Linked DNA regions of Homo sapiens: all the other regions are linked to region 2. Evidence: fine-mapped expression QTL. Tissue or cell type: whole blood. Region 2 holds a variant in brackets; each other region holds the start of a gene. All regions are shown on one strand. Distances are between the middles of the regions.

The links. PIP is the estimated chance that this variant, and not a neighbour inherited with it, causes the effect.
Region 1: FAM174A starts here. The variant in region 2 is fine-mapped to the expression of FAM174A in whole blood (INTERVAL, PIP above 0.99).
Region 3: it holds the start of ST8SIA4, and the variant in region 2 is fine-mapped to the expression of ST8SIA4 in whole blood (INTERVAL, PIP above 0.99).

Annotation. Positions count from the first base shown.
Region 1 is chr5:100,530,375-100,541,216 of GRCh38, reverse strand. FAM174A (family with sequence similarity 174 member A) reads right to left here and starts at 5,843. Exons shown (of 3, transcript NM_198507.3): 1 at 5,253-5,843. The coding sequence starts at 5,686. FAM174A-DT (FAM174A divergent transcript) reads left to right here and starts at 5,974. Exons shown (of 5, transcript NR_172939.1): 1 at 5,974-6,056; 2 at 7,065-7,137. RefSeq lists an enhancer at 5,585-5,884.
Region 2 is chr5:100,650,781-100,661,622 of GRCh38, reverse strand. No RefSeq gene overlaps it. Among named protein-coding and RNA genes, the nearest start is that of FAM174A, 120 kb to the right of the region's middle. The variant C/T (reference allele first, on the strand shown) is at 4,741.
Region 3 is chr5:100,897,476-100,908,317 of GRCh38, reverse strand. ST8SIA4 (ST8 alpha-N-acetyl-neuraminide alpha-2,8-sialyltransferase 4) reads left to right here and starts at 5,036. Exons shown (of 5, transcript NM_005668.6): 1 at 5,036-5,475. The coding sequence starts at 5,363. LOC107986437 (a long non-coding RNA gene) reads right to left here and starts at 4,910. Exons shown (of 2, transcript XR_001742825.3): 1 at 2,649-4,910. RefSeq lists enhancers at 3,634-3,873, 4,654-4,893, 5,379-5,948, 7,086-7,587, 7,694-7,913.

The DNA.
Region 1 (10,842 bases), 120 kb after region 2:
TAGATAAGCTCCTTGAACACAAATATGATGTCTTTATTATCTTTGAAGCCCTAATATTCAGAAGTTTGAGAGATATAACAGTCATTCAAATTTATCAGAAACAGATTTGTGTGGGCTTAAAGGTGGCCCATATGATAACTTGTCAAACTACTTTACATAGTCCACATTCAGCATTGTCCTACAAATCTCCTGAGCCAGGGTGTCATACAAGCAAATGGCTATTGATGTGGTGAAGCAAAGATCTCCTCAGCTCTTGAGATCACTAGGCAGTGTCTAAGGTGGATAGTATCAGGGCAGGTAGTCTCATACATTTACCCCGTATAGATATCAATGTCTATATGTGGCATTACATGAGCAAGCATTGCTCTGGCCTCAACGCCCCCAACAAACTAGTACATCTCCACTTTTACCTCCCAGAACTGCACACATAACAAATATCACTTAAAAACAGAGCATTCTATTATCACTTCACTTATGATATGATAATCATATCAGGGATTATGATCCCTGACATATCAGTTATGTCATCATCTTGGTATTTTGGCACTTGACCACATAGCAAACTAACTTGACACTTTAAAATATTTTAGGTGTATGAGTAAACATTTTGTGAAGGGAAGTTTCACCTTTGCAAAAAAATATTCATTACTTGCGAACTAGTACTTGTTAAATACATTTCCAAGTTTCTGGGTCTCTTTATATAGAAAACATTTGATATACACTGACTAGCTAAATAAATAATGGCAAACCAGGACAATTTACACATGTTAGGAAAACTCCACTTTCCAAGGAGATATGAACAATTATAATGGAAGTTCCATGAATGCAGGGACTTTCCTTGTGCACTACTAACCCTCATCACAGAGCTTAGTAATGGCACCCAATAGGTGGTAAATAATATTTACTGAATTAGTGACAGTCACTAAATACATAAATGGTTAAATAGTCAAAAGTACTCCTGGTTTTGCTTAAATTAAGTGATTTCTATGGATGTTTTATAATTTTGTAAATAGGGCTGGTACCACAAGACTTCTAGGAGAAAAAGAAAACAACTCATATTCTTAAGTAACCAGACAAAAGAGAAATGGTGATTAAAGTCACATGCATAAATCATTAGTGACTTGCTCCACTAAGGTGGAAATATGTGTGACCATATTAACAGACGTTTCTTTAAAATATTACCATTCCCTGACTATGTGTAGTAAATCAGGAAAATCTTTGGATGAGGGAAGGAATGCAGGGAGTTGAGGTAGGAAACAAAATTATTTCACCTTGGCACAAATATGATGATCAATAAATGTTAACTCACTTTTCAAAAAGGTAAAATTTGGAGGTTTAACATCCAACAAAATCATGTGTTTTAAACAGAAAGGCACTGGGCATATACTATCCACTTTATTTTTCTCCATAAATAAGCTAGCCATCTTTATGTGCAATATCGCTTTAAATTGGTTACTTTAAATGATCACAGGAAGCAGCATGATGGTTGAACATGTTAGGTAAGTTCCAGCAGAGCTGGGTTTGGGCAGGTCCTGTATGTGCACGCTTGGGCAAGTTATTTAAACTTGCTCAGCCTAAATTTCCTCAGTAAGAATGATATTACCTACTTTGAAGGTTTTTGCAAGAATTTCAAAATGCACATAAAGTATGCGGTATTATATCTGACACATAAATTATCAATTAACTATCAGCTATTAGGATGATAAGTAAAAGCTCAAAAATAATCTTTCAGTTACAAAGTATGGTTCTTTGAAAAAACCTAACGTTGTGTCTTAGCGTATAGGGTTGGGTAAGCATTCAAATTAAATTAATATTCTTTATTTCCTATATAATATGTATTAATAGGATCTGCATTTTAATGCCTTTTCATAGCATCCTTTATGTACTTATCTATGTGATTATTTGGTTAATGCCCCTCTGCTCCTCTAGTATATAAGTGTTATAGAAGCAGAAATGTTTGTTTTGCTCAAAACTGTATCCCCAGTGCCCAGTACTGGTCAGTTGAATAAATATTGACTGCTTAAATAAAGGCTATCATAATAAATTTCATGCTCATCTCCACTATATGAGCATGAGCACCATATTTTCTTGAAATTGGAAGAGACTTGCTAAAGAGCATAGAGATTTTTTTTAAAAAAAGTAGAGGGTTAAACTTTTAAGCATCGATTTCCTTCCAATATACCAAATTGAATAAAAAACGAAAAACCAACGACATGGCATGAAAAAGGAAATAATTCCCTGCTTTTAAGGCAAGAATCATTATTCAGCTATGACAAAAATTGCTTTATATAATTACCATACGTGCTAAAACCAACAACCATCTACAGTGATTTCCCCCCACCCCCGCTCCCTGGCCTTATACATTTTACTGTGGAGAGAATGTCCTACTGAGAGGAAGGAAATAAAAGTATTAATTGAGATCTTCGCAGTTCTTTGTTCCGTCAGTAAACAGCAATTATCCTTAAATTTCCAAATCCTTACCACCTACCTGTTCAGCAATATAATACATGAAGAGTGCTCATCCATTAGGCAACTGCTTATTCAGTGCCCATCATATATTGCACATGATGTTTAGCACTGAGGATATAGGGGAGAATAAGACAGAAAAGTCTCTTTTCATAGAGATTAAGTGTTCATTTTAGGCAATCTACTTTGTCCCTACCGTGTTCCTTGCATATATATATATACACTTACATATATATATATATGTTTTGTATTTCTACAGTGAGAACCTGACTGTTCTTTGGAATGTTTCCAGACTCAAAAAGGAAGTTATTATTACCTACATATTCATTATAAATGAATTAGATAAAAACAAAACTATTTGAAAGTCTCATGTAGTTCAATGTAATAAAATTTTACAAGTAAAATATTTTCTGCATCACCTCAAATCAGTTAAGAAAATAATGATTTTGGCCCATTCTTCTCCCTTGGCACAAATAACTAATTTCAGTGCACTGTCACACATAGTTTGAAAATGGGAGCCAAAATGAGCATTCACCAAGATAATGAAGAAAACCATAATCTGGAAGCAAAAAGTATGAGTTCGGAACACTGCCCAGACATTGTTAGCATCATTCAAGCTTTGGATGCCAGGCAGCCAACTAAATGTAGGACTTGGACTGCATGAATATGTTAGATGCTGGTTAAAGAATGCACTTTTTATTAGCCATAGTTCAGAATTTGGCTGTTAACACACATCATGTTACCAAGTCATCCAATAGGATCATATTGGAAGGACTGTATCTGTCCAAGTTTTACAACATTAATGACAGAAAATCAATGGTAATAAATATGTGTATTTAAAATAATTAAAAAGGTGGAAGCAAAAGGAAAAAAACAAGGAAGGAATATTCCCCCCAAATTATCATTATACTTATCATTTTTATGTATAAGAGATACAACATTCAAGGGGCCATGCATTTTTATAGGAACTATGTACAGACAGCAGTAAATAACAGTTATATAGTGAGGAAAATAATTTGTTTCAATATTCTTTTAATCTTTCTTTATATTAAGAAGAAAGTCTCAGTTTGGTGGTAATATGCTTTTAACACTTAGAGTGTGAGTGCAGATTTGCTAGCCTTTGTGAACCAACAATATCTAGCTCAAATAATATTTCTTACAGCTGTGGTTCTCAAATATTGCTTACGCCTGCTGTTTTGGATTTCTTTACATTCTTAAAATTGTTCAGGAACCCAAAATAACTTATATTTATGTGAATTACACATATCAACTTTACCATATTAATTAAACTTGAGAAAACCTATACTTATCAACTGATTTAAAATAATAGTAAACACATTACAAGTTAACATAACTTTTATGAAAAACAACTATATTTTCAAAAAAGAAAAAAACGTAAAAAGAATGACATTTAGATTCTTATTTCCAATTCCCTTTAATATCTGGCTTAAGGTGATAGGAGTAGATAAAAAATAGAAACAAAAAATAGGAAATGGATAGATTTTTATATTTACTTCTGCATTAAATCCTTTGCAATGTGTTGTTTGGTTGAAGCATACAAAGTAATTCCATCTTCGCACAGATATAAACTTGGAATGGAAAGAAACATTTTAATAGCCTTTTTATATATGAGTGGTTATTCCTTTATGATACTACTACACCAAAACTTGACAAGCAGTTTCTTAAAGATTAGTTGCAATGTGGAATCTGAAACAATATCAATGAACTACTTGTACCCTATAAGCCTGTAACAGAATGTATTATTTTGAAAATAGTTTTAATACTGTAGATGCCCTGAAGAGGTCTAAGTGAAACTCCCACCTGTGTGGTTCCCTGGCCCACATGTCAAGAACCACTGGCTTACACTATTTTTTAACTAGCCAAGTGATGTTGGTTTTCCATTCATGATAATAACGACTTGTTTAAAAGGAAACTTTTGCTTTAAATAATCAGTTTAAAGAAATATGTTAAATTACAATACAGAGGGTATTTATGGGAAAAACGTGAATTTTGAAAACAATAAACAAACATAAGCTGCAAACCTACCCTCTACACTTATTTTATAATGAAATAAACTGCTAGACAGCTTTCCCTCACCTTATCTCTTTGCTGGCTTCTCCTAATGGTGAGGTCTTGGCTCTGTATGTCAACTCTTCAGGAAGGTGATTCTCTGCCACTTAGGTGGCAGATTAAAGGGCAATACTAGGAAACACTGATAGTAAGGAAGAACTTTTCTTCTCCTGAATTTTATAAAAATAAAATATCCATAAGGCACCTCTATATTACTATTAATCCACTCAAATATATATTGATTTCCTATTAAGTGGCAGCATTGTACAAATAATTTGTAAGACTCACAAACCTACTAAATAGATATCCTGTCTTTAAAGAGTTTGCATTCTGATTGGCAAAATTTTGACCAGTTAGGTATACAAAAATTTAGACTAGAAAGGTAGAAGTATTACAAGACAGAGTAGTCAAAATTCTAGGGAATAAAGATTATCCTCACTTCAGAGAAAGGGTGCCCTTTGAGGCTGACGTGGGTTGTAGGTCAGATGAAGAGATTTGGAGGTAGGGCACTCATTTATAAACAAAAGGCAGCAATTAGTTATAGGTTTAAATTGCTCCAAAGGTAACAGGCCTTTAAGAAAGTCAATATCATATTCTTAAGCAGGAGTCCCTGATGCTGGGGAAGGGGGAAAGGGTCACAGAAGTCAGCCTTGCTGGAGATCACCGGCCTGCGTATCTCAGGCCCACGGGGGTGCCCCACCGAGGCTTTGCCTCACCTGACCGTCCTGACCACGAAGTACACCAGCACCGCGCCGCTCACCACCATCAACACGGTCAGGGCCCGCTGGGTCATGGGCTTGTCGCCAGGGTTGGGGCTCACAGCAAGGCCGCCACCCACCGAGCCTTCCCCGGCCTTCCCTCCGTGATCGTCCGTCTCAAGCCCGGCCACAGGGTTGCTGCCATTGCCTCCCTCGGAGCCCCGCGGCCCCGCAGCTTCAGCCAGACCACGGCCCGGCTGCTGGGCAGGGGTAGGGCCCGGTGGCAGCGGCGGTAATGTCCGTGGTCTAGGGTCAGGAGGCCCAAGACCTGGCGCGGCCTCGGCTGCCTGCAGCAGGACTGCCAGGGGCCCGCTTAGTTCAGGCAGCAACAGCAGGAGGAGGACGGAAGCCAAGAGGTGGCTGAGACAGCAGCAGCACTGCGAGGCCTTCATCGTTCCCGGACCGCTCTCTCACCACCCGGGAGCCGCCAGGCCCGCCACGCTGGCTCCAAGAGGGACCATAGGCGCGGTGGAGAATGAAGCAGAGGTGACCAAACGCCAGGGAGAGGCCCGGTCGTGGCAGGTGGCAGAAGCTACAGCAGTGGCAGCTGCCCGGAGAACCGGAAGTTCGTACATCTCAGCGGCCACTGCTGCTAAGGACGCCTTCGGTTGCTAACTTGTAGGGGCGGATGCACTTGGTGACGTCAGAGGCCTAGCGCCCAGTGCGCACGCGCACTTGTGTAAAAAGCGAGGACGTGACCGTTTTGGAAGCATTGTTCTTTTCACTGTTAGTGAGGAGCGGTCAAGGATGCGTATTAAGAAAGTAAGTAGACAAAAAGAGATTGTGTAAAATGTACAGCAACTCTCTCATGCAGGAACCCTGAGAGATTGGAAACTCATAATCTGAATTCATTGGTGTCAAACTGCAATAACACATTTAATCTGTAAGCCAGAAGGGCTTAGTTTTCCTTAGCTTCATTACAAGCTTTAAGCAGGCTTTTTTTCCTGCCTATGGGTCCCTGACCTCCCTTTCTAAAGAGCATTTGCTTGTAATGAGTTCATGTCCTTTGTAGGCACATGGATGAAGCTGGAAACCATCATTCTGAGCAAACTATTAGAAGGACAGAAAACCAAACACTGCATGTTCTCACTCATAGGTGGGAATTGAACAATGAGAACACTTGGACACGGGATGGGGAACATCACACACCGGGGCCTGTCGTGGGGTAGGGGGGAGGGATAGCATTAGGGGATATACCTAATGTAAATGACGAGTTAATGGGTGCAGCACAGCAACATGGCACATGTATACATATGTAACAAACCTGCACGTTGTGCACATATACCCTAGAACTTAAAGTATATTAAAAAAAATTACTTTAGAAAACTTTACCATTGTAAGTTATTTCTCTTCCCTTTTCAGATGTAAATATTTTTTAAAGCTTCTGGCCAGTTATATAATTGAAAACTATCTCAAGGGTATGGAAAGCCATCATGCCTTTGAAATATAATCAGCAAGGAAGGTAGTGGGCCATCTCTTATTTTGTGTGAGAGGAAAGGAACCTAACTGTTGTAGGCTTCTCGCTTCAAGTTGTAAAACCACCTCCTGTCATGGAGGAGAAAATTTACTTTTCCTTTGGGTAAAGTCAATCAGCAAACTCAGGTGGCCGGTGATCTTCCCAAAATAGCTCTTAATAACTCTCCACTCCTTTTTTTCTTTTAGAGGAGTTGAGATTAGAAGAGTTTTATCCCCTTTCCCAACAGCAGTAGTCTTCAATAATGTCTTCCTTGCCTGTTTGACTTCAGTAATATGGAACTTCAATTTGTGCAGATAACTAGAAGTGGCCGCATGATGTACCTCTCACCAATGAGATGCCTGTCAAGGGTATACGTGGGTCTTTTGAGTAAGTTATTGTTTTCATTGCTAAAAGAGAGACAGATACAGGTAGATATATACAGAGAGAGAGCCAGAAACACACACACATGCATACACACACCTACCTCTCTCATTATTCCTTTCCCCCTTTCACTTGCCTGCCCTCTCTGCACAGAAAGTTCTGGCCCTAACCTTGAAAAGAATATGACCCAGCTAGTCCTCTGATCCTAGTAGACTGTGGGATATCTGGCGTAAACTATGACTAAACCTATAGCCTGGCACCAAATGCAGCCAAGGTTAGCTTAAGTTAGTCAACCCCAGCTTGACCAAAGAAGTGAAAAATAAATGCTTATTTGCTGTATGCCACTGATATTTCTATGGTTATTGATTATGCCACATTATTCTAGCAATAGTTGATTAAGAAGCTAGAATCAAATCATGGTATTAATTAGGAGAATATAATAATGTGGCAGTAACCTGATACAAATTTCTCATTCTGAGATTTTTTCCCCTTATTTATGTATTTTTTTTTTATATCCTGTGCTTGGTACAACTTGTTTGCAAGCCAATTGATAACAAGTAAATGAACAAGTATATTAAAATTAAGAGAAAAATTCATAAACAACTAATTTTACTTAGTTTGAAAGATTGTATTTCACATAGATATTTGTGCTCAAAATTGTAACTTTCTATTGCACAAACAAAACACAGTATCTTCTCCTAGGAAAATTTTTGTTCATTCCCATGACAGATTTCAAGATGTCATTATATAATGATGTTTTACAAACAATATGGTATTCTAAAAAGAGCACAGTAACTTCCAGGTATGTTGCCTGCTTAAGATCACTTTTGTTGAGAATTGAGTATCTCTGAAAAATCTGATTTTGTTTTTGTTGTTGTTGTTTAGTTAGTTGGTTGCTATATCAGGAGAGATCTGTACTTAAAAAGTTTATCCTGGCAGTAATATAGCCATTTTAAGTGAAGGTAGAAAGTGCTGGGCACCAAGCAGGTTAGTATATAGTCCTAGGGCTATAGAGGCCTGTAGGATTGGATTAATGGGAAAAAAGTTAGGGAAATGGACAGGATATGACAATATCTGGATGCAGGTAGTAAGGGAAAGGAAAGAGATTCTTAAATTTCAGTGTACATGAAAATCACTCTGAGAGCTTGTTAAAAATGCATATATAGTCCATGTCTCCACTTCCAAAAATTCTGTCCAGAATTTCTAAAATAGTGATCTAGAATCTCCAATTTTAACAAATTCCCTTTCTTATTCTGTTTTGGGTAATTGAGAGCTGCATTTTGAGAAACATTAGAACATAGCTTTCCTAATCATTTGGAAACAATAGTTTGATTCTAAGATTTCAGAATCATTTAGCTCTTTGCATGTCCCAGTTATTGCCAAGGACTGCTGCAGATGGGAATTTGGGGTAACAAATGATACCAAGGTTTTATGCCTGCACATCTGGGAGAATGATAATGCCATTAATCAAGATGAAGAACATGACAAAATCAGATTTTGGAAGGAAGGAAAGATAATGCACATTTTCTTTTTTGTCATTCCTTTTTTTTTTTTTGACAAGTTGAATGTTGGACTTTTTTGGGAGGAGGCATTAAATACTAACTCTATTCTATTTTTTGGGAGAGGCATTAAATACTAACTCTATTCCATTTATAATGTGGAATGAAGTTCTGAGTAAGGAAGATGGGAAATCAAAAGGGCATTTTATTACTGATAAATGCCATTTGGAAGCTGACACTAGGGTGTACCACAAATGGGCTTCTTTACACTGAAACTCAACATTAAGATGCCTAATCCTTGCAGTTCTGCCAGCCAGAAGCAACTGCCTTACCCTGCTCCCTGAAAGCAGCTAAGAGACAAACTATCCTGTCCACTCTACCTAAAACAGCAGTTTACAAAATTTGTAGTATAGATCTTGTATGTTTCATTTATAACACACACTTAAGATTCCAAAATTAGTGTGATTATTTTTACCACTTGAACCTAAGTTCTATGAAGCAAGGGTCAATCTCATTTATTCACTACTCAATACTCAGAATTTAGCACAGTGCTAAAAAAGAGTATATCAAAAAAGACAAAGGTGGGCATTACATGATGGTGAAGAGTTTAACAGGAAGAGCTAACTATGCTAAATATATAAGCACCCAATACAGGAGGAGCTAGATTCACAAAGCAAGTTCTTAGAGACCTACATAGAGACTTAGAATCCCACACAATAGTAGTGGGAGAATTTAACACCCCATTGACAATATTAGACAGATCATCAAGACGTAAAATTAACAAAGATATTAAGGACCTGAACTCAGCTCTGAATCAAGTGGACCTGATAGATATCTACAGAGTTCTCCATCCCAAAACAACAGAGCATAACATTCTTCTCATTGCCACATGACACTTACTCTAAAATTGATCAAATAATCAGAAGTAAAACACTCCTCAGCAAATGCAAAGGAACTTAAATCATAACAGTCTATCAGACCACAGTGCATTCAAGTTAGAACTCAAGATTAAGAAATTCGCTCAAAACCACACAACTACATGGAAATTAAACAAACTGCTCCTGAATGACTCTTGGGGAAATAGTGAAATTAAAGCTACAATCAAGAAGTTATTTGAAACTAAAGAGAACAAAGAGACAACATACCAGAATCTCTGGGACTCAGCTAAAGCAGTGTTAAGAGGGAACTTCATAGCACTAAATGAACACATCAGAAAGCTAGAAAGATCTCAAGTTAACAACCTAACATCTCAACTAAAAGTACTAGGAGCCAGGAGCAAACAAATCCTAAAGCTAGCAGAAGACAAGAAATGACCAAGATTAGAGCTGAACTGAAGGAGATAGAGACACAAAATGCTCTTAAACAAATCAATGAATCCAGGAACTAGTTTTCTGAAGAAAGTAATAAAATAGACTGCTGACTAGACTAATAAAGAAGAAAAGAGAGAAGTATCAAAAAAACACAACCAGAAATGATAAGGGGGTATTACTACTGACCCCACAGAAATACAACCATCAGAGAATACTATAAACACGTCTATGCACATAAACTAGAAAATCTCATAGAAATGGATAAATTTCTAGACACATACACCCTCCCAAGACTGAACCAGGAAGAACTTGAATCTCAGAATAGACCAATACTGCACAGCAAAAAGCTTATCCACCACGATCCAGTTGGCTTCACCTCTGGAATGCAAGGTTGGTTCAACATATGCAAATCAATAAATGTAATTAATCACATAAATAGAACTAAAAGCAAAAACCACATGATTATCTCAATAGATGTAGAAAGGCCTTTAATAAAATTCAACATCCCGTTATGTTAAAAATGCTCAATAAACTAGATATTGAAGGAAGATGCCTTGAAATAATAATAGCCATTTATAACAAACCCACAGCCAATATCATACCGAATGGATAAAAGCTGGAAGCATTCCCCTCGAAAGCCAGCACAAGACAAGGATGCCTTCTGTCACCACTCCTATTTAACAGAGTATTGGAAGTTCTGGCCAGGGCAATTAGGCAGGAGAAAGAAATAAAGGGTATTCAAATAGGAAGAGAGGAAGTCAAATTACCTTTGTTTGAAGATCACATGATTCTGTATCTAGAAAGCTCTATAGTCTCAGCGCCAAAGCTTCTTACACTGATAAGCAACTTCAGAAAAGTCTCAGGATACAAAATCAATGCAAAAATTGTTAGCATTTCTATAC
Region 2 (10,842 bases):
ATTTCCGGATGACTGTATGGAAGTAAATTAAAGATAAAAACTGAATCTAAAATAAAGGTGATGTTTATCATTTGCATCAAACCAGAATCTTCTAGGTAGGATAGTGCTACTGTATTATTGGAATTTTTGATATTATTTAAGATAGACTCAGATGACTAATTGTTTTATCTTTGTTTTTTTTTTTGAGACAGAGCCTCGCTCTCACTTTACATAAACTGTTTTTTACAATATACTCTGCAGTGGAGAGATAGGAAAGATTGGAAAACAAGATTGAAAACATTTTAACCCTCAGATTATAATGAAATAAAAAATAAATTGGATTCTTTAAGTAATTTGTATCTGTACTTTTAAATTTATGCCCTTACTGTTCTTTTTTATAAGGACTAAAAACTGTTTTCCAAGTCATTTTTTATTATTAGAGCTCTTAAACTATCTGAGAGGCATTTGTAATATCCCCCTAAATTGATGTATGGCCTTGAGAAAGTAATTCAACCATTTTAATTATTGGACATTATAAAAGTATATCCTGGTGTGTGCTGAATGACACATGACTGATCACAACATGACATTTCTTTTAGGGAAGTTTTCATATTTATTTTCTGAAGAGATGCATTACATAGCACACCCTGGGTCTCTGTGGTCAGAGGCCCTGATTAAAGAACAAAATGTCAAAACCAGTAAAAGACCGCTAGCAAGACTAATAAAGAAGAAAAGAGAGAAGAATCAAATAGACGCAATAAAAACTGATAAAGGGGATATCACCACCGATCCCACAGCAATACAAACTACCATTAGAGAATACTATAAACACCTCTACGCAAATAAATTAGAAAATCTAGAAGAAATGGATAAATTCCTGGACACATACGCCCCCCCAAGACTAAACCACGAAGAAGTTGAATCCCTGAATAGACCAATAACAGGCTCTGAAATTGAGGCAATAATTAATAGCCTACCAACCAAAAAAAGTCCAGGACCAGACGGACTCACAGTCGAATTCTACCAGAGGTATAAGGAGGAGCTGGTACCATTCCTTCTGAAACTATTCCAATCAATAGAAAAAGAGGGAATCCTCCCTAACTCATTTTATGAGGCCAGCATCATCCTGATACCAAAGCCTGGCAGAGACACAACCAAAAAAGAGAATTTTAGACCAATATCCCTGATGAACATCAATGCAAAAATCCTCAATAAAATACTGGCAAACCGAATCCAGCAGCACATCAAAAAGCTTATCCACCATGATCAAGTGGGCTTCCTCCCTGGGATGCAAGGCTGGTTCAACAAATGCAAATCAATAAACGTAATCCAGCATATAAACAGAACCAAAGACAAACACCACATGATTATCTCAATAGATGCAGAAAAGGCCTTTGACAATATTCAACAGCCCTTCATGCTAAAAACTCTCAATAAATTAGGTACTGATGGGACGTATCTCAGAATAATAAGAGCTATTTATGACAAACCCATAGCCAATATCATACTGAATGGGCAAAACCTGGAAGCATTCCCTTTGAAAACTGGCACAAGATAGGGATGCCCTCTCTCACCACTCCTATTCAACAAAGTGTTGGAAGTTCTGGCCAGGGCAATCAGGCAGGAGAAAGAAATAAAGGGTATCCAGTTAGGAAAAGAGGAAGTCAAATTGTCTCTGTTTTCAGATGACATGATTGTATATTTGGAAAACCCCATCATCTCAGCCCAAAATCTCCTTAAGCTGATAAGCAACTTCAGCAAAGTCTCAGGATGCAAAATCAATGTGAAAAAATCACAGGCATTCTTATACACCAATAACAGATAGAGAGTTAAATTTGATATTTTAAGTACTATAGTTCTGCTTTCAGATGCCATGACTTGCTAGATGTTCATTAAATCATTAATATTTTTATTTTACAGCTTATATATACTGGAAGACTTTTTAACATGCATTCTACAAGTTCATTCTACAAAAAAATGTTAGCAAGTTCTTTGTGGTAGATTTTAGAGATATTGTGAACAAAACAGACACAGCTCTTAAACACATGTTGTTTCAGTCCTGTGGGTGAAGCAGATACTCACAAAATAATAAAAAAGGAAGTTTGATAGGTGAATCAATTGTAATCCTAAAAACTCCTGTCACCAGCACCATGTCAACATACACAGTAGGCTGGTTCGACTTCTTGTCTTACTCTAGATGTTTCTAAAAGCCCAAAAACTTATTTATTGTGTTTCCATTGCTAAGTTATCTACAGAAAATTAAAAATGAAAGTGGGATGTTTCTCACTTGCAGAAAAAGGAATCCATAAAAGGAGAGTTGGTACTTGAGATAGCAAATCTAAGTATGGAAACCCATAGCTTGCCTTCTCTCTGTATCTAAGATTGTGAAAGTAGAATACGAAGGGCCATGCTTTTAAAATGACAGTTACGCGTGTAAGAAACAAATGCCCTGGAGTTGGCATCTCAAGGGAAAAGGAAAAAAGTAGTTGGACCTGTGACTTCTTTGTAGGATGGTGCAAGTTTTGTACTGCACAATACTGAAGGAACCATTCATAGCAAGCTTGTAATAAAGTGCATGACTTGTATGAATATACATGGTGGCCCTGAGTAGATTTCTATGTAAACTCCTACTCTAAACTTATGATATAGGATCTAACCCTGTCTCTCAGCCTTTCAACTGTGCAGTGGCAGCAAGTAGATCAAGATTTACTGACCTATTCATGCAGGGTACCAAGAGTAGTCAAAAAGCTAAGTCAGAAGAGAGGTTCTTCCCCCCTAGTTTCCAGTACCATAGGTTAGTAACCTTTATCAAACAGAATTAGAGACAATAACATTAAATCAACAAATTCATCAGGTAACCAGAGAGCTAGAACTACCAAGTCTTTAAGAGGCTGAGAAACATTTGTGTTGGGATCTGAAATGAATATCTGAAAGGCAGTTAAATGTGTGTAGACAGATTAATACAATGGGTATAAACATTTCCAAAGATTTCATTTAATCACTCTCATTATTTCATGCCACTTCTTGGCTATGATATTTTCAGGAATACTTTTGCTTCTATCTTCAAGTATGAATAGAATTTTTAAAAAATGAGCATGTCTCAAAAAATTTGAGAGAGCCACTGGTTCAGTTGTAACAAAGCCCTTGGAAGCTTTCCATTATATTTAAATTTACATCAGCTAAGCATTGTTCAGGCATATAACATGTGCTAAATAGGTGTCTGTATATGTCTACAAAAGGTAATATTTTTAGAGAAACCTAAAACTAATATTAAATGACATGATATGAATATCAAGCTGGTATGAATAAAAGTAGAGCAGGACTTGTTTCCTCAGGTCTCGCTGACCGAAACTTTCAGCAGATAATAATTAGTATAATCAATGGCAATTTTTGCACTTTAATACAGTACAATTCAATGGTACTAAAGGTTGCCTTTCAAGAAAACTATTAAAGTTAAAAGGTAATAATGCTGAGAAACATGTTAACTGATAGAAATTGTAACCTCCACAATATTAGCAACAATGATCTTAACCCTTGGCTTATAGATCCGATTCAAACGTTGACCAAGAGAGCCAGGAGATTCTAATTCACTCCAATGTCTTTACTCAACATTCCTCCATTCGTTTCCTCATTCATTTCACAAATATTAATTGAGGACCTTCTATATTCTAGGCCCGGTGCTGGGTAAATTAGAGAAAATGAGGAACAAAACCACACCTGGAATCTGAAACTAAAATTAACTTTTTCCAGCAATGTCCTATTGTGTCCGGAATTGGTGGGTTCTTGGTCTCACTGACTTCAAGAATGAAGCCGCGGACCCTCGCGGTGAGTGTTACAGCTTTTAAGGTGGCACGTCTGGAGTTTGTTCCTTCTGATGTTTGGATGTGTTCAGAGTTTCTTCCTTCTGGTGGGTTCACGGTCTCGCTGGCTCAGGAGTAAAGCTGCAGACCTTTGCAGTGAGTGTTACAGCTCTTAAGGCGGCGCGTCTGGAGTTGTTCGCTCCTCCCAGTGGGCTTGTGGTCTCGCTGGCTTCAGGAGTGAAGCTGCAGATCTTCGCGGTGAGTGTTACAGCTCATAAAAACAGTATGGACCCGAAGAGTGAGCAGTAGCAAGATTTATTGCAAAGAGCGAAGGAACAGAGCTTCCACAGTGTGGAAGAAGACCGCAGCAGGTTGCCACTGCTGGCTCAGGCAGACTGCTTTTATTCTCTTATCTGGCCCCACCCACATCCTGCTGATTGGTAGAGCCTAGTGGCCTGTTTTGACAGGGCACTGATTGGTGCATTCACAAACCCTGAGCTAGACACAGGGTGCTGACTGGTGTGTTTACAAACCTTGAGCTAGATACAGAGTGCCGATTGGTGTACTTACAATCCTTGGGCTACACATAAAGATTCTCCACCTCCCCACCAGACTCAGGAGCCCAGCTGGCTTCACCCAGTGGATCCTGCAGGGGGGCTGCAGGTGGAGCTGCCTGCCAGTCCCGTGCGGTGGGCCTGCACTCCTCAGCACTTGGGTGGTTGATGGGACTGGGCGCCCTGGAGCAGGGGGCGGCGCTCATCCGGGAGGCTCGGGCTGCATAGGAGCCCACGGAGGGGGTGGGAGGCTCAGGCATGGCGGGCTGCAGGTCCCGAGCCCTGCCCCTCGGGAAGGCAGCTAAGGCCCCGTGAGAAATCAAGGGCAGCACCGGTGGGCTGGCACTGCTGGGGGACCCAGTACACCCTCCGCAGCCGCTGGCCCGGGTGCTAAGCCCCTCATTGCC[C/T]GGGCCGGCAGAGCCAGCCGGCTGCTCTGAGTGTGGGGCCCGCCAAGCCCACGCCCACCCGGAACTCCAGCTGGCCCGCAAGCGCCGCGGGCAGCCCCGGATCCCGCTCCTGCCTCTCCCTCCACACCTCCCTGCAAGCTGAGGGAGCCGGCTCCGGCCTTGGCCAGCCCAGAAAGGGGCTCCCACAGTGCAGCGGTGGGCTGAAGGGCTCCTCCACGGCCGCCAAAGTGGGAGCCCAGTCAGAGGAGGCACTGAGAGCTAGCGAGGGCTGTGAGGACTGCCAGCATGCTGTCACCTCTCACTGTCTATAAAGTTAAATAGAGAATAATCAGTAATAATTTCAATTTTTTTGACAGCTCAAAATACTCTTATTTGAGCCTAAGAAGAGAACTAAGAGGAGAAAGGAATGTGCAGCTGTGAGGGTCTTAAAAGCAAATGAATCTAAGGTCTGTTTCCTAGTGCTACCTTTAGGTACAGAATCATCCCTTCTCCTTATTTTAGGATGGAATCATCCCTTCTCCTTATTTTACCTGGTATAGTGTTAAAGTATAGATAAGACATATTTGTTAGAAATAAGTATTTTTGTATTGAGCCTAATATCCAGATGTGAATTTCATTATGATTAATCACTATATTTGTTATAGGCAGCAAAATGTCACCAAATTTCATAGCATTGTAACAAAAATTAGCGTAGTTGCAGTTTGCTGTTGCAATAGTAATATAAATATTAAACATGACTTAAAATTATATATATATATACACACACACAAAGAGAAGGGAAGTAAATATTCATAAAATTGTATTGAACAATATTTACTTATTTTAAATACACTACGCATAAAACCACATGTTTATCACTGTGGTATTATATGGCGTTTATATTCTTAACAATTTTTTCCAGGTTTAAGATTTGTAGGAAACCACATAACTGTCTTTGTGGTCTTGTATCTGAATGGTAGAAAGGGCTAAGAAAGAAGTATTTCCTACTCCACTAGAGGATATAGCACTCGGAAAATCCATGGATGAACATTGCTAAAAAGGAATGTGTGAAGAGCTAAACTGAGGAAGGAGCAGAAATTCATGAGTAATTCAGCTCTGCCTTTAACCAACCAGCCTTCCTGCCTTATTCCTGGAAATTTGGCCACTGGTAACTTTTAGGGCCACAGTTGAGCCACTGGTGCATTCCATTCTCAAGGTCCAGTCCATACTCCTAAAATCCACTCAAGAAGTGCGGGGACAGGTGAGAAGTCAGGCCAAAACATATGGACTATGATGCATGTTGAGAAGCTTTCACTAGCACAAGCAAACAATTTTTAAATGCTTACGAGTGAAGTAGAAATATTTTTCATAACAATGACCTTGTCTGCTTTCTCTTTTGGGGTCTCTTACCCTTGGAACTCTACACAGCTGTCAGAAAGAGATAAATGAATTCTTAGAGTTTGGGTAAGTGAATTAGTAATGATTTTCCTTGGTCATATTTTTCTAGACCTCTCTTCAGGAGCATGCAAACTCCCCAAAAGACCTAGTTTTGTATGTCACGAAAGCTGATATGGATTAAATAAAAGGAATCCTAGTGCCTCAGATATGTTCTATACTTCTTCACAAAGTCTGTCATTCCACACAGATTTAGGGAAAGCACTAAATTCCAGATAACCTGCACACTTCTTTTGGAGATATAAAGGGAGAGGTTTTAGAAGATATCTATAAAGACATGATTTGAGGACTCTATTCCTAGCTTAACACTTGTTACAGTATTGTCCTCTGTCTTTCTTTCTGGTGTTTGTGTGATAACAGCCCTGCTTCTTATCAAAAAGACTATAGGCTGAGTCTTGGTGATAAAGCAAGTGGTAAATGGCACACTTAGAAAATGTTTTTACTCCCATGAAATGTATAGTGAGATAAGATCATAATTCTTTAGGTCTTCATTAATTAGAAAATGGTATACAGGAAGAGAAATGGAAAAAAACTTATATTGTTCATCCTCTTGTTTGCAGTTCCTAACTCTACCCTAGTAGATAATACATGGTCTCCAATACTGGGAACCATTAGAATACAGTTACCCTTAGTAGACTTTGTCACTCTAATGACTCATGATCACAAGAATAAATCCTTTCAATAAAGATGTCCAATAGAATGAAAATGTAGCCACCTTGACAGCGGGGTCTTATTATGATGCATAATTATACTGAAAAAAACAGCTGAGGACTTTGGAGTACATGTTCTCTGCCATAATGAAATGTGGCTCTCAGGGCATGGAACAGTGTTTGACTCTTTGTTCATAATGTGAAAATATCATCCAAATCTACCTAAAACCCTTCAAGTGATTGGCCTTGTTAGCTTAATGAAACTTGACGCATCAGAACAATTGTCGTCATATGCAAGAGAGAACTTGTTTAAACTCTCTGGCAGTCCCACTGGGTTTTGCATTAATTAGTAAACATCCATATAATTACATATCTTATAACTGATCCTGACAAAACATTCACACAGGTGCACAGAATATTGTCTTATGGAACTTCAAAAATCGTTAGATCCATCTTCATAAAAAGAACTCTTGCAGTCAAATAACCTGTTTCCAGGAAAGGAATGGCCATGGCATATAGACCAACCTCGACTTGCGTATGAAACTACACTAATGGGCATCAAGTTTATTTGAATTCGAGATATAAACTGAACGTCTGCCAGAGAAGAATTGATTTGATATTTTTATATAATCTGTATTTTAGTAAACTAAAGTCTATGTATGTAATCTGATATATATGTAATAAATAAATATGCATAATAAATAGCAGGCCAGAGTAAAAAGATTTGTTCTTTATTTATTTTGCTAGTTATGAGGAACACTGAGTTTGATAGTGAAGAGTGAACATTCCACTGTGTGTGTGTGTGTGCATCTGGCAAGCTTGAGCAGCGTGTGAATCAAATAACAATATTTTGACAAAGCAGAGTGAGACTATTGGACTTACTGATTGTCCTGTAAAGAAAAGTAGTTTAGAGTACTAAAGAGCTTGAATGCAAGTCAAGGGGGAATTCCGGTAGAAGCCATGGCATAAATGAACTATATAAATTTAAGCAAGTCATTTTAGTATTCTGGTCCCCATTCTTACATGTCGAAATTTAAAAAGCTGGATTAGATGTTTTCTACAGTCTGCAAAAGCTTATACTTCTTTATCATTCTGTGAATAAATTAAATTAAATGCATTAAACAAGAATGCTGTAGTCACCATAGTTACAAAACTAGTCGGAGATTTTAACTGGTATGATCACACAAGAAAAGGTATGAATGTTAGAAGAAAATCAAAATAAATACTATCACACAAAATATTTGGATACATAAAAAATCAAAAACGATCTGTAAAAATCTATATATAGTAACATAAAGTAAACAAGCAAATAAGAGTTTTCTATATATTAGCTATAACAGATTTAAAATGTTATACAAATAATAAATATCCTTTTTCATTACAGAATATGTAAAATAAAATAATGAATATAGCGAAAACTATGCAAACCTGTCTGAAAAAAGTTATGAAATATTACAGAAAGTTACAAGAAAATCAAAATAAATGTGAAGTCATATACTGTTTCTGACTGAGAAAAACCTAAGACTGCAAATATATTAATTATATTGAGAATAAGCTATGCATTTAATGGAATCCAGTGTAAACCTCACAAAAATCCAAGAACATTTGGAAAAGAATAAAAAGGCAAGAACAGCTGTTCTAGAAACCAAAATATACTCTAGAGCTTTAATAATGAAGTGGCAGCCTTCAACTCTGGAATGGATAGAAGGTTAAGAAACGGACAGAAAACATAACAGAGTCCAAAAATAAATCTTCGGTTAGTAACAAGAATTCTGAAAAAGTTGATTCTGACCATTTCTGCCAGTTTTCTCATTGCTTTTATAGAAGGGACAATTTCTGGAGTTTCCTACCCCACATTTTCATGGACCTAACTCCTCTCGTGCAATTTAAAATCAGTTTTATAATTGTGAATGGTATCTATGGAGGTCAATAGAGTGCTGATTTGAAAGTTCTAAATACCATATATGTTCTAAAATGTACTCACCACATTTAGTTACAACTTAGATTTTTGTTAACTAAATATTTTCCAGATATCTTGTAGTTTTCTACATTTCAACATTAATTTCTCTTACTCAGTGTCCTTATAAAATATTCACAAGAATATTTATTCTATCTACTTTAAGCTTTTCTTCAAAGTCTTAACATGATACTGGATATGAAACTCATTGGAAAATGTATGAGTATTTTAAAATGTAAGAACTAAAAATCTTTTTTCCTGTACATATGTATTAACTATCAAATGCACTTTTATGAAGTGAAGGACAATGATGCCCAAATCTCAAGCAAAAATAGTCTTCCCCCCTTCACATATATTTTGATGGTAGCAATTTAGAATGAGAGATGCTTTAGACAACTTTATTAGGAAACTGTCTGTGGAAGACTGGCTTGGCATCTGGAAAAAAATGAAAAATAGTTGAGGAAGGATGATCTATAATAAACTCTCAAATTTTTATAAGCACTCAAATATTTACTAAATACAATAAAAAGGAATTACCCAAAGGATGTCAACATCTTTCAAATTCTGATATCTGTTTCAGAAGACAGATGGAAGGAGAGAGAGAGAGAGAGAGGGCCTTTGAAAATACCTAAATATACTTTCTAAATATAATATGGCAATTATGACTTTATGAATGACCAACTTAGTAATGTTTCTTTCGCAAATTTTTAATATTCCTTTATGAGAAATATCTGCAAAAATTTTTGCTACTTTTATATCATAAAAATAATCTATGAAATTGTGAACAGCAGTCTTAAAACTAAGGTCACCAAGTATACTATAAAATTGATTATAATAGCTCTAAAGGTATCATCAGAAGCTTAGTGACAAATGTTTAAAGTCTAGAATCACCCATTTACTCACACATATAATATGTCTATATGCAATACCATGCAGGTTAATATATTTGTAAAATAATGGTAAAAAAATACAGATAATCTGTTGACGTTGGCCACCTTAATAATCAATAAGAATTACTAAATATAACAGCAATGCAGATCAAAAATCTGAAAAGAAAGGAATTGACCATATATGCAAAGAATAAACCATATGATTTTAAATTTTTTTTTTTTTGAGATGGAGTCTTGCTCTGTCACCAGGCTGGAGTGCAGGAGCATGATCTTGGCTCACTGCAACCTCCGCCTCCCAGCTTCAAGCAATTCTCCTGCCTCAGCCTCCCAAGTAGCTGGGATTGCAGGAGCCCACCCCACGCCTGGCTAACTGTTTTTGCATCTTTAGTTGAGACAGGGTTTCACCATGTTGCCCAGGCTGGTTTCAAACTCCTGACCTCAAACGATCTGCCTGCCTTGGCCTGCCAAAGTGGTGGGATTACAGGCATGAGCCACTGTGCCTGGCCATTAAACAACAACAAAAAAATACATCTCATGTCAAAGAGGAGGGGGTCTCGTGGGAGGTAATTGGATCATGGGGGTGGACTTCCCCCTTGCTAGTCTCATGATAGTGAGTGAGATTTCACGAGATCTGATGGTTTAAAAGTTTGTGGCCCTCCACGCTTCACACTGTCTCTCCTGATCTGCCACAGAAGGTGTGCCTTGCTTCCCCTTTGACTTCTGCCATGATTGTAAGTTTCCCCAGCCATGCGGAACTGTGAATCAATTAAACCTCTTCTTTTTATAAATTACCAAGTCTCAGGTATTTCTTTATAGCAGTGTGAGAATGGACTAATACAAGGACTCTCTTAAATATGCATAATATTTAAATTTTGGTTTTATTTCAACACTTAAAAGAGGGAGTAAACAATAAGGCAGGCAATCTGATATTATATGAATTTTCTTACTATGAAATGTAAAAGATCTGTGTTCTAGCCTTAACTTTTAATAATAATTGTGGAAAATTACTTAACATCCCTGTAAAATTATTGGGTTGAACAGCATATTATGATAATAAATAATAAAATATACTAGTTGTACAACTATAATAGTTGTAGAGTTTTCAAAGTGTTTTGTGTAACATTGCCTTATCACCTAAGGTCTCTTCCAGCTGTAGGCTCTATGAAATAAA
Region 3 (10,842 bases), 250 kb before region 2:
CATGTACCCTAAAACTTAAAGTATAATAAATAAATAAATAAAAAAGAAAAAAGAAACTCATTCCAAAGATTACACAGAGAGGCAAAAGACCCAGAATAGCTAACACAATATTAAAGGAAAAGAATAAAGTTGGAAGACTGATGCTACCCTATTTCAGGACTTACTATAAAGCTTCAGCAGTCAAGAGAGTGTGGTATTGGTGAAAGAATAGACAAATAGATCAATGGAAGACAATAGAAAGCACAGGATAGCCCACCCAAATATATTTAACCTTTTGTTTCTTTGACAAAGAAGCAAAGTCAATACAATGGAGAGAAGACAGCTTTTTCAACAAATGGTGCTGAAACAATTAGACATTGACATGATAAAAAAATAATAATCCAGACACAAACTTTGCATGATTCACAAAACTTAACTCAAAATAGATTATAGACCTAAACAGAAAATGATAAAATGCCTAAAAGGTAACATATCTTAAAAATCTAGTTTATCTTAGGTTTAGATTTTAAATACAACATCAAAGGAATCATCAATAAAATAATTAATATGTTGGACTTCATTAAAATTAAAACCCTCTGTTCTGTGAAAGAAACTGTCAAGAGAATGAAAAGACAAGCCACAAACTGAGAGAAAATATTTTCAAAAAGAGATGTGATAAAGAACTGTTATCCACAATATAGAAAGAACTCTTAAAACTCAAGAGTAAGAAAATGAACCTGATTAAAAACCTGAGCAAAAGTTCTGAACAGACACCTTACCATAGAAGATAAACATGTGTAAATTGCTCAACATCATATAATATCAGGGAATTGCAAATTAAAACAACAGTAAGATACAACTACTACACATCTGATATAATGGTCAAAATCTAAACCAATACAACAGCAAATGTTGGCAAGGATATGAAACAACAAGGACTCTCATTCATTGCTGATGGGAATGCAAAATGGTACAGCCACCTTGGAAGTCACTTTGGCAGTGTCTTTCAAAACTAGACATATTCTTACCATATAATCCAACAATCTTATTTATTTCTACTTACCCAACTGGGTTGAAAGCTTTACATCTACACAGAAAACTGTACACAGATGTTTACAGCAGCCTTATTCATAATTGCCCAAACTTGAAAGCAATAAAGATGTCCTTCAGTAAGTGAGTGGATAAACTTTGATATATCCATATAATGAATTTTATTTAGTGCTAAAATAAAATGGACTTTCAAGCCATGAAAAAAAATTTGTTTTTCAAGCCATGAAAATAATGGAGCATATTATTAAGTTAAAGAATCCAATCAGAAAAAGCTACATACTCTATGATTCCAACTATATGACACTTGAAAAGGCAACACTGTGGAGACAGTAAAAACATTAGGGAAGTCAGAGCCTGGGGTGACCGGGAGTGAGAAAGAAGCATGAATAATCAGATTACAGAGGATGTTTAGGGCAGTGACACTAATTTGTATTATACTATAATGGTGAATATATGTTCAGTATATATTTGGCAAAACCCATAAAATGTGCAACACCAAGAATGAATCCTAATATGACCTATGTACTGTAGGTGATAATGATATGTACATGTAGTTTCATTGAATGTAAAAAAAGAAATGTACTGCTCTGATGAGGAATGTTGATAGGGAGACTGAGTATGGGGAGAAGGTAGAGTTATATGGGAACTCTCTATTTTCTGTTCAATTTTGCCATAAACCTAAATGTTTTCTAAAAAAAAAAAAGTCTATTAAAAATGTCATGGGTCATTAAAAACTCCACCATGAGACTGCAAGTATCTATTCATTTCTTGCCAGCTAGATTTGAGAGTACAGCCAGCAATGAAAACATGAATTTACATTAAGTCAAAGGATAAAGTATCATTTTAAAACCAGCTGCCATTACTCACATTATTTATTTATAGGCTATTGTATAATTGTAGAATTGTGCTGAATAAAGACAAATATATTCTCTTTATTGAAGAACTTACAATCCAAAGATCAAATGAAAATTTAGAAACAATCTTATTTGCTCAGGAGCATCAAACTAAGCATTCTAATAGAAGAAGTTAATTCCAAAAGACTTCTTTATAGTCTTTTGGTGCTCAGGAACATCAAACTAAGCATTCTAATAGAAGTTAATTCCAAAAGACTTTTTATCCAATATTTATAGTTCTTGCACCTATTTACATATTGAGAAAAAACCATGCTGTCCTCACTTTTGTCTAAGTATTGGCCTGTATGGCTTCTTTTTAATTGGCAAATTATAATGGCTATATATTTAACGAATCTAACAATATTAAACAAATGGCATTCAATTACACTCCAAACACTAAATTGCTTTAATTTGGGAAGAAGAATTCCTGGAGTCTCGCTGAACAGTTATCAGTCATTCAGAATTGCTCGCCTTAATATAAAAAGTTCTGTACTTAAAAAATTCAGAAACAGCAGCATTATACAATTGGAGAGTTCACTTATTTTTCTTCTGGACATTTAAATTTGTCTTATGTGTTCCTATAACTAGTTCTTGATTGCTTTCGTTTCGCTCTTTTTTTTTTTTTTTTTCTTTTCTTTTTTTGTTTGTTTGTTTGTTTTTTCCTGTTTGGGCTAGGTAAGTAGTTTCCCCTAATGTAATTTAAAGCTTAATATAGATTATACTCACTTTCCTCTTGAAGATTTTCTTGTGGCTTTCTCATTACAGAAGACTGTTCCACACTCTGGAGCCATAGAATATTATGAGTACACCGAAACTTTTGGACCAGCACTCTCCCTTACCACTTTCCCTTCTAACAGTACTGAGCCACTTCAAAGTTGCCCCAAAGCACCAGAGTTTTATTACTCTCTGGAGTTGCGCATACTCCTTTTTCCACCTGCAATGTTCTATCCTCCCTCTGCTTGGCTTACTTCCTTGTCAGCTTTGAAAACAGGAGTCTGTGTGTCCCCTTCACCCGGAAACTCATCTTCCGGGCTTCAAAAGGCTTAAACACCCCATCTGCTTCAACCCAGGAGCTTACTCAGATACCATATATATTTTAAATGATGTTTCTGATTCATGTTGCCATACTGTAAATTATTATTTTTAAAAGATGCCCCCTTTGAGTGAGTAGGATTTGTGTCTGACTAGATGCTAAGTTTTATTCATCTTTGTGTTCCCATCTCCGCACACATTGCCTGCCCCATAACCATTGCTTAAGAAATAATGAGTTTAATGAAACGATGCATATTACTCTATCCCTGACAGAGAGTGATGTTTTACCTATAATCTAAAATATAGTTGTCTACTGTTTAAAAATCAAAGTTTATCCTTGAGAATTTAGCATCCTAACCATGCATCCCTCTCCCACCCGACCCCTGCCCTCAGCCCCGGATCCCTTTTAACTTAAATAAGAAGCTGTTTTATTCTGGCAGTTTTTGCCAGAAGAAAAGTGAGTCTAACAGAAGTCAATCTAACAGAAATGCATTAATGCAGGCTGGATTTGCCTAGACATCAATAAACTCGAAAGGCTCCCTGTGGGCCACTTGTAGTGTCAATAAACGTTCGTAATTACTTGCTCCTTGGAGCATTTTTATACCCGACCCCGTTCGCTGTGCTGCAAAGAGGAAATTCAAGATCTCGGAAGTTCTTAACTTCTTAAACTCTAGAGGAAGTATGGTAAACACTGGCGGGAACCTTGGGTTTTTAAGCAAAGATGCTGGCTGTTTTCGTTGCTATTTTAAGCTGTCAGGCGACAAGCAACTCAGAATTCCCCTTCTTACTTCCGGCGGGAGGGAAGATTGGAATTGGGCCTCATCATTTCTGAGCGTGAAAAACCGCTGAAGCTACTGTTCAACCTGAAGGAACACGGAATTCAACTGGAGAGAAACCCTGGCGACCAGGGAGCTGGGGACCGGCGCATATAGATGAGGGAAATCCTGGCTTCCAGACACTGTCTCATGCTAGAGGTGCCTCCCGACCTACCAGCCAACAGTAAAGACCGGAACCAAGGCGTGGTACTAGCAGAGTAGCAAGCATCTCTCCCAATGAGGGCAACGACTGGAGGATGGTGGAGAGGTACTCAGAGTGAACAATCGAACACAGAACTCTTGAAAAGTGTCCCTGCCACCCAATACAAGTACGAAAAATGGTGGGACGGAGGAGAGGTGACAATCAGAGGCTATATATATAATTGAGACTTTTAGAGAGGACTTTGCTCTTCCTTCCTCCCCTCCCTTTTCTTTCCTTTCTTTCTTTCCTTCCTTCCTTGGTATCCGAATGTGTGTGGGTGTACTTGCGTTTAAAAGAGAGGTCCATGGTAGCTGCTTTTTTTTCAGAACTCTGTTTCTCCGCAATGAAGTTTAAGTGGGATTGGAGTTTCCTTGACTTCTGCGTGAGGAGTTTCCAAATGGCAATGAAAGGGAGGCGCATAAATATCCATAAAGTTCCTAATGACACCTCTATCATCACTTGTTTCCTGCAGAATCCTGAGCCAGGGTCGTCGTCCACCACCCATGCAGAGTGGGCCCATCGGCTAACAGGTTCATGTGTGTATTTGCACTTTCCAGATTGAGTAATAAAAGTCTTCTTCCTTCCACCGCCGTCCCCACCCCCGCACCCCGTTTCACTCCACCTTGGAGGGCGTGTTTTTGCGTGTGAGGGTGTGTGTTTAGCAAAAGCGATTGAAAGAAGGTACTCTTCTTGCAATCCACCCCTAGCTCTACCTGAAGCATTCCTCTGGCGGGACGCTTTTGTAATCTGTCCCCAGGCGAGGTGCCCTCTCACCTAGATGCGGATAGACTATCTTGGAGCTCCCAGGTCCAGAGAGCTGATGCTTTGATGTCCCAGGAGAGTGTGTGTGATTCTGCGTGTACGTGTGTGTGCATATGTATGTATGTGTGTATGTATGTATATGTGTATGTGCGCGAGCTCGCAGGCGCGTAGCACTGTGAGCTTCCTCTCCCGGCACAGAGCAGGCAGAGCCGGGGACGTTACTCTCCAAGCAGCCTCCGCCCCCTCAGCCTGGTGATTGGCTTTGCGCAGCGTTTATCTCCTAGCAAGAGGGAAGGGCCAGTGACGCCCCCGAACCCAGCTGCAGAAGCTGCCGCCACCTCCAATGCACAAGGTGTCTCATCTGAAAAGAAACCTGAGCCCCAGGGAGGCGGCGCGGAGCGACCCTGGCAGAGCTGGCGCAAACAGGGCGAGAGGTCGCTGGGCAGCGTTCGAGGACCAGAGGGAGCTCGGCCACAGAAGACCCCAGTGATCTGATCCCGGGATCCCGGCTCCAAGCTCTCCTCGCATTTTACAGATTTCACCCCCGCGACTATCTCCCCAAAACGGAGCCTTTATATCAAGAGAAGGTGCGGGAGCTGGGGCAACCAGGACTTTCTCGGGCACCCAAGATGCGCTCCATTAGGAAGAGGTGGACGATCTGCACAATAAGTCTGCTCCTGATCTTTTATAAGACAAAAGAAATAGCAAGAACTGAGGAGCACCAGGAGACGCAACTCATCGGGTAAATGCAAAGCTTCATTTCAGGATATGACAAAAAGTCAAGCCATAAATGAAATGTGAATATAGAGGGTAGAGTGATGGTTAGGATAGCATGTGTGTTTGTTTGAGCTTGCGCGTGGTTAGTGTCATGAATTAAATAACAAAGGCTGTTGTTGAGATGTGCGTGCTTCTCTAAGCTGTTCCCAGTATGAGTTCAACTTGCTCTGTGTGGTTGTGGTGACAGTTGTGTTGGCCCTGGGTGCTCTCTCGCCAAAGGAGAAGTCACTGCAGAAGTGTCAACAAAGAACGTGTGTCCTTGTCCTTTTAATCTGTGGGCAGAACTCAAGAGAAATGTCTTTATTCACCAAACGGTTGCCTGTTTTCAATGTCCTATCACCTAAGGAGATACTGGAGATAGATGGTTTCTCGAAGGGCTGAAGTTAAAGCTTAGAAAGCAGGAAATAGGTATACTCTGTTTCTCTACTTTTTTTTTTTCTATTTGACGTTGGATAGATTAATGTGTTATAATTTGAATTAGAAACTCCAGTACCACTAAGGATACTTCCTTATTTGTTCTTCTACGGCTAAAACGCATGGGCGTCATGGTTACAGTTTTAGAAAGAAACTGGGTACTGTAGCTTCACACAGACTATATTTCTGCTATTTTTTTTAGTTTGTCTAGATGAGTTCAGACTCTCCCCCGCCCCACTAAGTTCTCTAAATATCACACTTCCTTCCACCCGCTGGCCTCTGTGTCTTTGAAGTTTACCCAGGAGGTGGTGCAACTTTGTGTTGCTGACATAGCTTGGAAGGCTTTTTCTGAGGATGTGAACCTGATTGTCAACTCTATTCAAAGTCCTGTTTCGGAAATCCTCCCTGTTCCGGTTTGGAGGCGTCCTCTATCAGAAACTACACACCAGCAGAGATGCCTGCCCAGTTTATATTTTTCTCTGACATTGATTAAAACAAAGAAAACAGCCCTTGCGTGTGTGTGTATGTGTGTGTGAGAGAGAGAGAGATGGGACTGCTAACACACACACATGCTCTTAAACTTCCTGCACTCCATTTCTTAATATTCCTGCTCCCTAGGTAATAAGCATTTATTTAAGCGAGCAAGATGCAGGTTGATCCTTACAGAAGGACTTGCTATTCTGTAGAAAACCAGGAAAACAGTAGCACAGTCAAAGCGGACTGGAAGAGAATGAAAAAGCTAGCAAGGAATGGGCTGGAATGGTCGTCATGCATCAACGAATCTATACATGGTCTATTCTGAGGGGGTAAAAAAGACCGGTATGAGGTCGTTTACACAAGACTGGGTGGCTTGAAAATCCAATCTAGCTCAGTTGTTAGAAAAGCAGGACTTTGGGCAGGGGCGTGGGCATCCCTTGCAGACCTGTGCTTGCCAGGCAGACAAAGGGGTCTTTAGAAAGGTGATGAATGGGCGCATGGGGCTCCGATGAGAGGCAGAGGCTAGAGCTTGAGGGTCGAGGCTCTTTGTTCCCTCCCGGGCCGTGGGCTAGGAGGATAAGCCTGATCCCAGACAAAGCGGCCAAGGCTCACTAGGACTCCGAGGGTTCGGGCCCTTGGCTGGGACCCTGGAGAGCAGGAGTGGGCGGAGCGAGTGAGAAGAGGGTCGCCAGATACTGCCGAGGTGTCCATCTCCGAGCCTCCCTAAACCGTGGCCAGGAAAAGGAGCGCACCTCGAGTCCCTGCGGGGAAGCGGAGCCGGGACACTCCGCATTGCACGGGTGTCATTTCTCCTGTGGCCCTTTCCTGGACGTTGCCGGCTGGTGGGCGCAGCCCTAGGCGTTAAGGAAGAGGAGGCGGGCACTGGCGCGGCGGTTGAGCTAGTCGGGCTGGGCTTTTGCCCGCATCCTTTTCAAGCTGAAGCAGTTTCCTCCCAGCTTGACTGAGAAGGCGTTGGGGCAGGCGCTTGAGTAAACCAAACAGGAAGAGAGGCGCGCACCGGGGTTATCCCCTGCTGCCAGAGCGCCGGCGGCGAGGGGGAAAGAATGAGTGAGAAGATAGGGGGAAACCTTTATTGCAGGACTCAGGCTCTTTTGGTCCCTCCCCTCCTTCCACCCCCACCCCACCCCCACCCCCCACCCAAAGTCACTTTCAAAGCTCAGTCGGCAACTGGCTCCTCCTTCTTAATCAAAACCCGCAATTACAGTGGGGCAAGGCAGAGGGCTGGCCGCGAACGTCGCGCTTACACCCGTGCCCTGTAGCGTCCTGACTGCCTTGGTCTCCTGAGAGACCAAGACTGTGCAAGGAGTTGGAGCTGCCAGGAACAATGCGAGGGCAGCTAGGCTCCCTGAGCACTTTCCTTTTTCTCCAGGATGAAAGGTTCGTGGAAAAGCTTGTGACCCGAGCTCATTATTTCGTTTCAACTCCCAAACAGCGCTTCTGGTGGAGGAGTTGACTCATAAAACCATCAAATCATCTCATTGACTGTCTTTCTACCCAAGCCACGTGGAGAGGCCAGTTTTGAGTTTTGAGTAAACTGGAATGGAGGTTCGGCTCCAGATCCCGGTCCAGTATTCAAGTGAGGTAACCAAGGCAGTCTCTGGCCTTTGGGGGGCACTGCGAGCCTTGTGGCTTGGCAGCAGTTTCAAAGAAGGGCCTTCCATAGTCCTTGAATCTTGCATCACTACCCCAGATTCATATTTAGCTTTTCTGCTACCAATTTTGCAATACAAGGCAGTTCCTTTATCCCTTCGACCCTTCCCCCCCGCAAATGGGGGTCCCATCTATAGTTACTCTTACAGTATGCCACAATACTGAGCAGTCATACCACGCAGATGGAAAAATAGAAAACCAGCACAACCTTCTCACCAACCATCCACATTCTCATATCTCCAAAGGAATACCTGCGACATGTTTTTTTAAATACATAAGGAATTGTTCCAGCATAGGTCAAGTAATGATTATTGAACATCTAAAATTCATATTTCCTTCCATAAAAGCCTATTAGTTAATAAAGTTTAAGTTGAAGAGCAGTGAAGGCATTAAGTGGTGTGTTCTTGACTAACTTTACTTTCTTAGTAGACCTCACAGTTGGCTTATGACTTAATTAGCTCTTTGTGCACTTTTGGGTATAACTGGAAATGTGTTAATGTAAGGCTCCCACAAGTAAAATATGTAAGCATCCTCATTTAATGAGATAATATATTTGAAAGTGTAACATAAACTTTAATGTCATATAAATATTTGTTTTGTTAGTCCTTAAATCTTGCTACACACTATTTTTCTGGTTGACTACAAATGAGACTAACTTACTTTTCTTATTATCCAAAGATCTCTCTTATAATTTGACTATGTACTTTAGGTTGTATTACTAAATAATCAACAATATTAGTTCTAAAACCTATGATAAAATTGAAAGTGGAAATAAATATTTTTACTTAGAGTATTACCATTGACAGCAAAGTTAGTCCCAGTTTGTTCTAGGATGAAACACAACCTCGTGAGTGCAGAAATCTAGAATTTGCACTTTACTTCACATTTCACATTTCACAATTCTACTAAAACTCATAAATTAAGGTAGAAACTATCATCTTTATTTTTAGTTGTTTGACACTTAGGTAATGAAAATACAAAATGGCCTGCTGTGTGTATTCAGGCTTAGTTTCATGCAAGTTCTTTATTTAAATTTTTATATTAAAGAGGAAGTTTAACCTAGTTAAAAGGGAACAAATACATTCAAAAGCCAAGTCATGAAGAGTTTCAGTAGGGTGGAATACGGGGCTTTTGAGACCTAATACCATGAAGTGAAATTAATCATATGTCTTACGTACTGCAAAACTAATGAAGTAAATTGTGGTGAAGCCTGGAAATATTTGTAGACACTAGGTTACCTAAAAAATGATTAATTCCTGCCACTGGTATCACATAGATGACCATCTTAGTGAATTTTTCTTTGATCCAAATAAGCAGGGATCCTTTGTATTATATTGATTTATGTGGAGTGATTTCGTTGATGTGTTTCGCTATTTTCCTTTTAAAAGTACATATTGAATCTTCTTGTAGATGATCCTATGCAATAAATGTTTTCAGTGCAGCTGTTCAAAAGTCATGTCTGATCTGGAATGAGAGACAAGTAGGGGGGTGGCAACATCCTTCAAGCTTCGCATTCATGGGAAGGAAGAGCCTTTTCTGAGACAGAATGCTACCAAGGTCATGAGTGAAACATCCCATGGGACCCATTTAACTTTATACAGAGAAATTTACTCTAGAGCTTCAGATTGTACTAAGTTTGACCTTCTCCCACACTGACTATAAAAAGTGTGACTAGTTGTAGATATTTTCATTCAAAATTCTTTCCAGTGATGAAAGTCTGAAATTTGGCTTATCACCAGCTCAATGAAAGCAATTCAAACAGCGGAGTAAAATGGTAGCATTTTATTCATAGAACACTGATTTAAACTTTTTAAATCTTGGATATTCTGAAAAGGCTTGGCACAACTGAAAACATCATATCAAACATTCTGCCATGTAAAAATGTATCTGTATTTCTAGGTCAATGAAGCAATCATCTATAGATTATTTATGTAGTTAATTATTTAGTTTTTAGAGACAGGGACTTGTGATGTTACCCAGGCTGGTCTCTAACTCCTAGGATCAAGTAATCCCCCCACCTCAGCCTCCTGAGTAGGCACTGCCAACCATACCCAGCTCTTCCACACATCTTAAAGAGTGCAAGCCCATGCATATTTTTATTTCTCCTATGAAAGTTTATTGGTGGTGAAAATAATTATTATAATGATATCAATCTGTGGTTAGAAAAAGATGACACTGATACATCAATTAATAAGGTGATGATTAGAAATATACCTTATCCACAGAAATAGTGATAGTTTGCACCTGAAATCATGTAGTCATATCTCCCAAAGTGTGAACGTTAGCTTCTGTGTATAACCACATTTTTATTCATAAGTAGCTATTATCATTATGAATATAATATAAAAATTGACTTCTGGGCCGATGGTCAGTAAAGCACACCCCGTGTTTTCTGGCATCCTAAATGCTCCCTGTAAGGCAATCATTATTTGCCATGCATAGGCATGCAAACGTATCATTTTCATCAGTAGGATAGTTTAAGATATTAATTTTTATAGAATTATGAATTTCACAGGGAGTAGCAGCCTATGATGATGCTTTGAGCTGCTTCAGATTTAAGCTAACATGTTTAAAAAAGAATGCAAACCAAAATACCAAACTATAAGGCTTCAATTACAGAATTCATCGAATAGCTGTTACACAGGCAATGTTTCCATTGATACTAGGAGAGGATTGCCTGCATTAAAAAAACACAGTTTTAGACTTTGTTATGGAGCAAATAGTCATGTTATTTTTTAACTATATTTTTGACTTTCTAAGAAGTAAAAGG